Regions from separate parts of the Homo sapiens genome. Here region 2 is linked to region 1. Evidence: fine-mapped expression QTL. A gene starts in region 1. The other region holds a variant in brackets. All regions are shown on one strand. Distances are from middle to middle.

Region 1 (5,447 bases):
GTTTTCTCCCCCATGGTACAGATATAAAAAGTGAAGCTCTGAGAGATGAAATGATGCTTGCGAGTCTTGTGCACTGGCTGTCTGATGCCAAAGCTTGCAGTCTCAACCATGATATCATGTGCCTGTCCCACTGGAGGCTGGATGGGGGGCTGAGAGAGCTGGACCATGAAACCCTTGCCCAGCTGGGTCCTCTCTTTGTCTCTGGAAAGTGGGGAGGGCCCCCAGCTGCTGTCTACATGCAGTGACGAAGAGGGGGTGAGTCCTCAGCCCTGCTCCTGTCCTGCCCACATCTGGGTCACACTGGGGATGACAGATGTCCAGTGTGGCTGGCCAAGAATGAATGCCGGTGGACAGGAAGAGAATATGAATGCCTGTGGCTGGTGGCAGGGTGACTCATCTCGGGCCTTCGGTCACAGCCTCAAATTCCTGTGCCAGAGCCTGGCCCTCCTGTCATTAGTCCTAAGACTGGTCATGCAATGCAGGAGGGATGGATGGGTACAGGAGGCTAGAGGTTCTGACCCCAGCTGTCCCCTCCAGAAGCCTCAGTTCCGCCGCAGCCCTGAGCGTGAGGTGGGGGTGGAGGGCAGTTAGGGCAGGACTGTAGGTAATGCCCCTCTCCAGCAAAGCCAACACGTCAGGAATAGATGGGACCCCCTGTCTGCTTCTCAGCTCTCCTGACCTTCCCCGGGACTTAGGACCTGACCCTGCCTTGCTCTGGGCCTCCATCTACAAAGTGTCTATGTGATGAGGCAGTCAGCCCAGGTATTCACTAAGGCCTGAAGCTCCCATGCCCTGGGATTCCTGCCCAGAGAAAGGAGGCAGCCCTGCTCCCAGCTCCCCTACCCCTCCAGGCAAGGCAAAAGCAAGGACTGCAGCAGAATGGGGAAGCTCAGTTGAACATGAACCACCCAACCAATCCAGGTGCTTCTCAGGTGACATTTGGAATCCTGACAGCAATGTCACCTGTTTTACAACACCACCAGTCATTCTGCAGTTGAGGACACTGAGCCACAAAGAGGGCAGAGGCCTGACCCCAAAGCTCACATACTCTGCATTCCTCCAGGTCTCACGGAGAAGGGGGAGGGCTTCCTGGTCCACTCCAGCTGGGGGCGCTATGGCCCGGCAGACCAGGGTCCTCCAGTGAGGAGCTCTGGACCAAGGTCTAACTTGGCTCCATGTACTGCTGTGGGCTTGCTCCACCCAGTGCCAGGGGTAGGTCAAGGTCAAGGGGCCTCTTAGGCATCTCCTAAGGGCATGCTACTATCCAAATGTTTGTGTCCCCACTAAAGGTCATCTGTTGAAATCCTACACCTTAAGGTGATGATCTTTGGAGGCGGGGGCCTTTGGAAGGTGATTTGATGAGAGGGTGGCACCCTTATGAATGGGATTGGTGCCCTTATCAAAGAGGCCCAGAGGTGAGGATGTGGCAAGATGGCACCTTCTACGAGCCATACCTCTCACCAGGGACCAAATCTGCTGGTATCTTGAACTTGGGCTTTCCAGCCTCCAGAACTGTGAGACAGAGAAATAAGCCAGGCGAAGTGGCTCACCCCTGTAATCCCAGCATTTTGGGAGGCTGAGGTGGGTGATGACTTGAGGTCAGGAGTTCTAGACTAGCCTGGCCAACATGGTGAAACCCCATCTCTACTAAAAATACAAAAAATTAGTCAGGCATGGTGGCGCATGCTTGTAATCCCAGCTACTCGTGAGGCTGAGGCAGGAGAATCCCTTGAACCCGGGAGGAAGAGGCTGCAGTGGGCCAAGATCGTGCCATTGCACTCCAGCCTGGGGGGAAAAAGATAGAAATAAATCTCTTGTTTGTAAGCCCCTCCGCTTTAAGGTGTTTTGTTTTCGCACCTGAACGGACTAAGGGACTAAGGGACCAGGAATCATCCAGGCCTCAGCTTCCCAAAGCACTCCCCACTCCCCAGTTCCTACAGGGCCCCGACCCCAGCCCCAGCACCCGTCATTCACATTTTTTACTTACAAAGGAAACTTTGAAATGGACACTTCCTGTTACTTTCATTCAATGAAAAAAATCCCCAGCACTTGAAGGCAATCATACAGAAAGCCTGCAACAACGCAGAGAGTAGACTCTTCAGGTGGTGGTGCCTGCTTTAGGCTGGCTCTCCCCGGGTCAAAAGGGACGTGATAAAGTGTTAAAGTGATGTTAAGGATCAAGTGGGCACCAACTGCGACTCCCCTCCCACCCCCCGACTTAACAGATGTCAAGGAAAACAGAAGGAAGCCGTTTCTCTCCAGGACATGCAGTGTCTGCTGGAGTTTTGGAAAAATGCTTTCTCTCGAGTCGCTGCGGGGAGCTCCCAGGCTGGACCCCCCCGCACAGGTCCTCCGCCATCGCCCTCCCAGCCCCCGCCCCCAATCCCCCTCCCAGACCCGGTCCCCGCCCCCATCCCCCGCCAGACGTCGTCCCCACCCCCATCCCCCTCCAAGCCCCGCCCGGGAGGGCGTCCTGCCCGCTCATTGGGCCTCCCGCCGGCTCATTTGCATGGTCCGAGGGGGGCGGGGCTGACGTCGCGCTGGGAATGCCCTGGCCGAGACACTGAGGCAGGGTAGAGAGCGCTTGCGGGCGCCGGGCGGAGCTGCTGCGGATCAGGACCCGAGCCGATTCCCGATCCCGACCCAGATCCTAACCCGCGCCCCCGCCCCGCCGCCGCCGCCATGTACGACGCAGAGCGCGGCTGGAGCTTGTCCTTCGCGGGCTGCGGCTTCCTGGGCTTCTACCACGTCGGGGCGACCCGCTGCCTGAGCGAGCACGCCCCGCACCTCCTCCGCGACGCGCGCATGTTGTTCGGCGCTTCGGCCGGGGCGTTGCACTGCGTCGGCGTCCTCTCCGGTATCCCGCTGGGTGCGTCTGGGGACGCTGCCCGGGCTCCACGTGCGGAGTGGGTGCCCCCTAGGCCGGGGAGCGGGGGATCCCCAGGGGTCGCGGGGCCCTGGAGGAGCGGGCATCGGACGCGGACACGGCGGGGTGCATCCCGAGGGCCCCCTCCGAGGCAGATGCTTCCTGCGGGGGCGCTGTTCCTGGGCCCGGGAAGGGGGCGTTGGAACCCCGAGCGGTCCGGGCCGAAGCCTGGGACTCTCGTGCGTCCCCACCCCTACCCCCATCAGGCGCCCGTGCATGAAGGGAGACCCTCACCTCCGGACTGAGAGTCGGAGCGTCTCGGAGCGACGGGGAGTAGGGAGCGGGACCCGGGGCGGAGGGTAGTGCTGGCCCCTGCGGACTCCGGGTCCCCTGTGTCCTCTCGGGAGGGGCTGGACGGGCTGAGCTGCCGAGGGGCCGATTTGCCCTGGGCCGGACAAAGAGTGGGGCTTTGGCCGGTCCCCCACGGTGGGCTCCTTCCCTCTGGGGATTGAGGGACTCAAGACACCCCGCGCCTGCGCTTTTCTTTTCTTTTTTTCTTTTTTTTTTTTTGAGACGGAGTTTCGCTCAGTCGCCCAGGCTGGAGTGCAGTGGCGTGATCTCAACTCACTGCAAGCTCCACCTCCCAGGTTCACGCCATTCTCCTGCCTCAGCCTCCCGAGTAGCTGGGACTACAGGCGCCAGCCACCAAGCCCGGCTAATTTTTTGTATTTTTTAGTAGAGACGGGGTTTCACCGTGTTAGCCAGGATGGTCTCGATCTCCTGACCTCGTGATCTGCCCACCTCGGCCTCCCAGAATGCTGGGGTTACAGGCGTGAGCCACTGCTCCCTGCTGCCTACGCTCTCTGGGTCGCAGCCCAGCCTTCTGGGGGCTGGGTAGCCTCCCAGAAGGGCAACCCTGGGCATCCTCCAGGGCAGGCTAACTGGAGTCTAGTGGGGAGGGGTACCTTGAAAGAGGAAAGTTGTTTCCTCCTCCTCCTCCTCCTCCAGTGTTTGGGACCCTTCCTGGGGGCTGGAGTGCATCCCTGGACACCCCCCAATCCCATCCTCTTCTCTAGTTTCCACTGACCTAGGCCCACCCTCCCCTCTCCGGCTCAGTACTCCTGGAAATGAGATTCCGTACATTTGAATCTTGTCCTAATGAAATATTTGTCCATGTGGGTACCTGTGTGTGTGTGGTGGGGGTGCAGACGGAGGGTTTGTTTCTCACTAGCTGGAACTACTGGGGTGTGGTATGCTTCCTGGGAATTTGTGTGCCACAGTCCTGGAGGCGAGGAGGGGGTTGTGAGCCAGTAGGCAGGGGCTGGGGCAAGTAGCATTGTGAAGCTATTGACACCCAGACGTCCCCAGGCAGGAGATTATGCCCCCATTAGCCCCCTTTTATCTGGGCTTCCTTAACAATGGACTCTTTGCCCTGCCTGCCAGAGCCAGCAGGGAGTGACTGTTCAGTGGTGAGGAAGCGGGCAGAGGAAGCCCTGCCATTGGGTAGGAGCAGTGGGCAGCCCCTGGGCTGACTGGGAGGTGGGGATTAGGGATTAGACAGTCCTGGCTGTCTGCCTTCCCCTAAGCCAGGGGGAGAGGAGCAAAGGGCACGAAATGTGGCCTCCAGGAGGATTAGACCGCCACATGATCATTTGCACACCCTGGGGTTTAGCAACAATAAAAGTCAGCTTTTTTGTATCCCAAGGTGGCCTGTGGACACCCACATGGACAAATGTTTACACTGGGACAGAATTCAAATGCAGAGGTCCCAGGAGCCTAAAGTACACTCACTCTGGTATAGAAAGGATTCCTTACTGGGCAGAGGACAGGTGCAGCCTGGGGCTTTCCCAGGCAGGACACAGGGAGGCTCAGGAACCACCAAGTCCCTGGAAGGTGGATCTGGAGGCGTTGGCAGGAGCCACTCCCTGGGTTCCAGGGCTCCAGGTTCCTGCTTTAACCCCCTGTCTCACAGAGGGCTGTGCACTTGGGGGCTGCTGAGCATGTCCCAGAGGCTGCATCCTGGACACAGCACCTCAGTGCATCTGAGCTGAGGCTAACTTGGCAGGAGGGACAGGCAGAACCTGCCAGCCACGTGCAATTCCACCCCTCTGGCCACTCAGGGAAGGAGAGCTGTGAGTCAAGATCAGATTTGGGTCAGGACAGGCTGGGGCCTGCCTGTCCCTGTGCATCCCAAGATTTATGGCTGGCCAGGGGTTGGGCTGGGAGGGGTGGTCTTGCATGCCAGGAGAGTGCAGATCAGCCTGAGAGGCCAGGCCAGTAAGTGAGGTCAGATCTCCTGCACCTGATAGCATTAAGGCCATCTACACCAAAGCTCTAATGCTGATATGTTCCTGGCCTCTATGTGGGGCATGGAGGTGGGGCATGGAGGTGAGGCCTGCTCGCCTGGGCTTCTGGAAGTGGGAGACTCATTCCTGTGGCTGAGGCCTACAGCAGTGCTGTGTGGTAGGAATACACTGGAAGCCATGATGTCATTGTGCATTTTCTAGAAGCCACATTGAATAAAGTAAAAGACACAGGTAGAATTAATTTCATTGAGCCCAATATATCCAAAATAATATCA
Region 2 (5,000 bases), 48 kb after region 1:
GGCTGGTAGTGAGGTGGGGTGAAGAATGTTCTGGGGACAGAGATAGCACTTATCAGGCCCACGCCAGGGGAGAGTGGCTCGCTGGGTGGACCGCAAGTGTAGGAAGAGCTGGAGTGCAGGTTGGGGGAATGGAGTGCTGGAAGACAAGGAAGAAAAGCCGTCAGGAGCCCAGACCGTGGTGGGCCTAACATGGCGCGGTAGAGTTCCCACTTTAGTCAGAATTCAGCAGACACCATTGAAAAATAAAATTTGGAATGAATCTGTGAATGAGTAACTCTTCAGAATTGAATGGGGGGTAATTTTGAGAAGGCCTAGATAAGACAATATAGGAAAATGCTTGCAAAAAATAAGGTGCTAGATAAACTAAGGACATTTTCATTATTTGGAGTATAGTTTCAGCCAACACTAACAGACCTAAAAGAACAGTGGCTTAGACAAGAGAGAAGTCTCCATCTCTCCACACAGCTGGGAGACTGCCAAGGGCTGGTGTGGTGCTGCGTTCCCTGAGGTCACCTTGGGCTGGCGTGGTTTCCTGTGGTTCCCTGGGGTCACCTTGGGCTAGTGTGGTGCCTTGTTCTCTGAAGTCACCTTGGGCTAGTGTGGTTTCCTGAGGTCACCTTGGGCTGGTGTGGTGCTTCGTTCCCTGAAGTCACCCTGGGCTGGTGTAGTTTCCCCCCGTGGTGTCTTGTTGCTTTGTCATCCCTAGGGTCCCTGAGTCCCTCTGATGGCTGAGCACCGTGTCCTCATTCCAGTATTGGAGGAGCACAGGAGATTGAGAGGGCTTACCCCTCCCTTTAAGCACCTGTCCTAGGTGTTGTACACGGCACTGCTCTCATCCCATTGGCCAGGACTTAATCACTTGGCCACACCTAGGTGCAGGGGAGGCTGGGAAGTCACTGGACTTGAGTTAATAATTGGTGTATGGGTTTATCAGTTGTGACAAATGTACCACACATGCGAGGTGTTAGTAAGTGTGTGTCGGGGTAAGGAGAGGTTCATGGAAACTCTTTGTACTTTTGTAGTTTGTACAAAAACTTTGTACTTTCTGCTTTATCTTTTTTTTTTACCCGCAACCCACTGTTGCTGGCTTCAATTCTTTATCTTTCTGTGCGCCTAAAGCTGCTCTAAGAAATAAAGTCCACTAAATAAAAAATAAAGTAAAATAAAAAATAAAAAAAGAAAAAGAAAGAAAAGATGGTGCCAGGCGGGGTGGCTCACGCCTGTAATCCCAGCACTTTGGGAAGCCAGGGCGGCTGGATCATGAGGTCAGGAGTTCGAGACCAGCCTGGTCAACATGGTGAAACCCCGTCTCTACTAAAAATACAAAAAATATTGGCAGAGTGTGGCGGCGGGTGCCTGTCATCCCAGCTACTCGGAAGGCTGAGGCAGGAGAATTGCTTGAACCCGGGAGGTGGAGGTTGTGGTGAGCTGAGATCATCCGACTGCACTCCAGCCTGGGTGACAGAATGAGGCTCCATCTCAGAAAAAAAGAAAAGACAGTACTGAGGCTCCACCCTAGAACTGTTGGACCTGAGTTCCTAGAGCGGTGCCTGAGCATCAGCATATTTTGACAGTTGCCCAGATGCGTCTAGATGTCCAGCCAGGGCTGAGCACCCCTGTGTACAAGGCAGGAGTCGCCTTTCCTTCCTGTGAGAGGCCACTCATTCCTACAGAGCCCAGCCCGCTCTGCACAAGGCACCCCAGGGCCATGGTGGGTCACGAGGTGGCTGCTTCCAGCTCAGACCCAAATCATACCTGGTGCGGGGGAGGACAGACATGCCTCTTACACACAGTAACACAGTAAACAATCTCACACTTATCTTCGAGGGTTACTGACACCCCTATTGTCATGTGAGTTCCCCATTTTCATGTCGGTTGAATTGAGAACCCAAATATTTTCAAGGACCTCTCTAATAGGAGAACAGATTCCTTTAGCAAATATTGTTTGCTTAAGTTTGCTTAAGTGAATAATGCTGCTTATAGTTATCTCCTTGTAGCAAAGGTAGATTGTTTTTGTTTTTTGGTTTTTGGTTTTTTTTTTAGAGACAGGGTCTTGCTCTGTCGTCCGGGCTGGAATGCAGTGGCACAGTCATAGCTCACTGCAGCCTCCAACTGCTGGGCTCAAGTGATCTTCTCACCTCAGCCTCCCGAATAGTTGAGACTATAGGTGCTCGCCACCACATCTGGCTAATTTTTAAAATTTTTGTAGCTATGTTGCTGGGGCTGGTCTTGAACTCTTGGCCTGAAAGTGATCCTCCCACCTTGTCCTCCCAAAGCACTGTGATTACAGGCCTGAGTCACTGTGCTCAGCCCTGTTTATTGATATATTCTACCAGAGAAACTAGAAACATTATTTTTTGGTGTAGAGGTGTGCAATATTTTGATTTTGTGTGGGAGTGTTCTTAAACGTTTCTCATGATTATATTATTTTCTAAAGGAGATTGTAAAATAGAATGAACCTTCAGATTGCTT[T/C]TTGTCTTTTTTAGCAATGGGAACCCAAAGTAAAATAACATCCTGGCTGTCTTATTGTTTAATATTTTTTTATTTAGGTGATGACGCACTTCCAAATGGGTTAGACGTTACCTTTGAAGTAACTGAATTGAGGAGATTAACGGGCAGTTATAACACCATGGTTGGAAACAATGAAGGCAGTATGGTATGCTACAGGCTTTTTACTTTCTTATATTGGAACTTAGAGTTGGGAACTTTTACACTATGACTGCATTCTAAAAGCTGATGATAGTTTCAAAATTCGGTCATTTCATTTACCTTAATCTGTTGTTATTTGTGGTTTCTCTTTAATCACCGTAGAATTGGTGATAATATGTTTTGGGTTGTTTGATAACAATGTTAACGTTAGTAATTAGGAATGATTTGGAGAATGTTCATATTAATAGTCTCTTGTTCAAATTCCTTTAAACTCTAAATCTGTAACATTCTTGAGCCTCACGGGTGGCAAGGTTAGCTTGTCCCTTGCATTAATCAGGTTTGAATGCAGGATGTGAGCACTCAGCAGCGGCATGTTTTAAAGAATGAAAGTGATTACAAATGAAAGACTAGATCTGTAGTTAGCATCTTCCTTCTGTTTTTATGAAAGTCCCTTAGCTAGCATAGTCTTTATCCAATCCAAAGTTCTCATTCCTTCAATGTAGACCACTGCTATTTTTTTTTTTTCCCCTCCTAGGTACTTGGCCTCAAGCTTCCTAATCTTCTTGGTCGTGCAGAAAAGGTGACCTTTCAGTTTTCCTATGGAACAAAAGAAACTTCGTATGGCCTGTCCTTCTTCAAACCACGGCCCGGAAACTTCGAAAGAAAGTAGGAAGCCCAACAGATCATTGAGTACACTGGCCTGATAGAAAAGTTAAAATAGGTGGCTTATTTGTGAAAAGAACCATGACAGAATCAGCTGCCACTTCTGCAGTGACCACATGCTGTAGATTTCCTCTTGAAGATGAGCCCTACGGGCGTAGTGTTAAGTCTGTTGATTTAAATGTGTGCAAGTTCTAATCACTGTTTCAGCTTTTAAAGCTCTATCCCATTGTCTCCTAGTTTCTCTGTAAACTTATATAAAGTTACTGGACAGTTCCCTTGGAGCTCACTGCGGGAGACGGACAGAGGAATGTCAGCTGAGTACAGTGTGAGTAGCATTTCAGTCCTTCCCTCTGGGCTTGGGGGAAAACAGGGTGGCTTTTTCACTGATTCCCAAAGGCAGCAAGAGGGCAGCGTGGAAAGCACAGGCCCTCTGCCCTCCGCACCAGGTACCTCCTGGCCAGGTGCCTCTTCTCTAGCCGAGTACAGGCTACAGGGACCCGAGAGTGGCTGATGCCCATGTTAGCAGCTCCTTAACCTGGTCCTGACTACCCGAGGCACCATTGGTTGTCCCTCCCCATATGTGTGGAGACTGACAGTTTCTCATAGTCAGCAGAGTTGGTCAGATCACTGGAAGGTTTCTTTTTTGTTGTTGTTGAGACAGAGGTTTGCTCTTGTCGCCCAGGCTGGAGTACAATGGCACGATCTCGGCTCACTGCAACCTCCGCCTCCCCGGTTCAAGTGATTCTCCTGCCTCAGCCTCCGTCACCGTGCCCAGCTAATTTTTGTTATTTTTAGTAGAGATGGCGGTTTCCTTATGTTGGCCAGGCTGGTCTCGAACTCCCGACCTCAAGTGATCTGCCCGTCTCAGCCTCCCAAAGTGCTGGGATTACAGGTGTGAGCCACTGCACCTGGTCCGGAAGGTTTCATTTTTGGTTCACACCTAAGTTTACACCTAGAAGGGTGTGATTAAATGCCACCATTGGAATTCGTATCATTTGGCCTTTTTGGGGCTTTATGATAACCTGCTTTTTTTTTTTCTCCTTCCTTTCGCCACTGTTCCTGACTCCTCTTGTTCTGGGCTTTAGTTCTTGCGGAGAGCCCTGAGATAGAATACTATGTAAGAGTCGTTCCCCACATGTGGTCTTCAGACCAGCAGCATCGACCTCAGCTGTGGGCTTGTTAGAAATGCACATTCGCGGGCTCCACCTTGAGCTGCCAAGTCCGACTCACAGAGAGTGGGGCCCAGGAAGCTTTAAGTGTGCTCTCCCTCCAAGAACCCAGCAGAAGCCCTGGAGGCGACCACCTGGGCTTGACTCCCCCGTCTCCCTTAGGGCTGTGCGACCTCAGGCAAATGACTCATCTGTGAAATGAAGGACAGGAGCGCGGGGTCTCCCAGGGCCGTTGTGAGGGTTGGATGAGAGGCGTGGTAAAGCTCCTGATGCGGCGCGTGGCGCAGTTTAGGTGCTTGAGGTGCGTTAGTGCCCCAGGCCTCTGGTCCTTGCAGACCAAGGCCATGAGAACTCAGAGCACACAGAGCTGGGCCAGGTAGACTCCAGGTTCAAGATGGAGATAGGAGAATCCAGGCACATTTGCACTTTCATTTCCTTTTCTCCAAATTTTCTTGTCTGGAAGGGAGCAGCCCTGAGACACCTTTCTGCTTTGAAACCGTCCTCGGATGCCCTCTGGTG

What was found.
Region 2: its variant is fine-mapped to the expression of PNPLA3 in whole blood (TOPMed, PIP 0.91).

What each region holds. Positions count from the first base shown.
Region 1 is chr22:43,921,230-43,926,676 of GRCh38, forward strand. It overlaps PNPLA3 (patatin like domain 3, 1-acylglycerol-3-phosphate O-acyltransferase), which reads left to right and starts at 2,576. Exons shown (of 9, transcript NM_025225.3): 1 at 2,576-2,869. The coding sequence starts at 2,683. RefSeq lists enhancers at 474-974, 2,391-3,135, 3,136-3,878.
Region 2 is chr22:43,969,687-43,974,686 of GRCh38, forward strand. SAMM50 (SAMM50 sorting and assembly machinery component) reads left to right here. Exons shown (of 15, transcript NM_015380.5): 5 at 2,550-2,656; 6 at 3,185-3,315; 7 at 3,550-3,637. Among named protein-coding and RNA genes, the nearest start is that of SAMM50, 17 kb to the left of the region's middle. The variant T/C (reference allele first, on the strand shown) is at 2,473.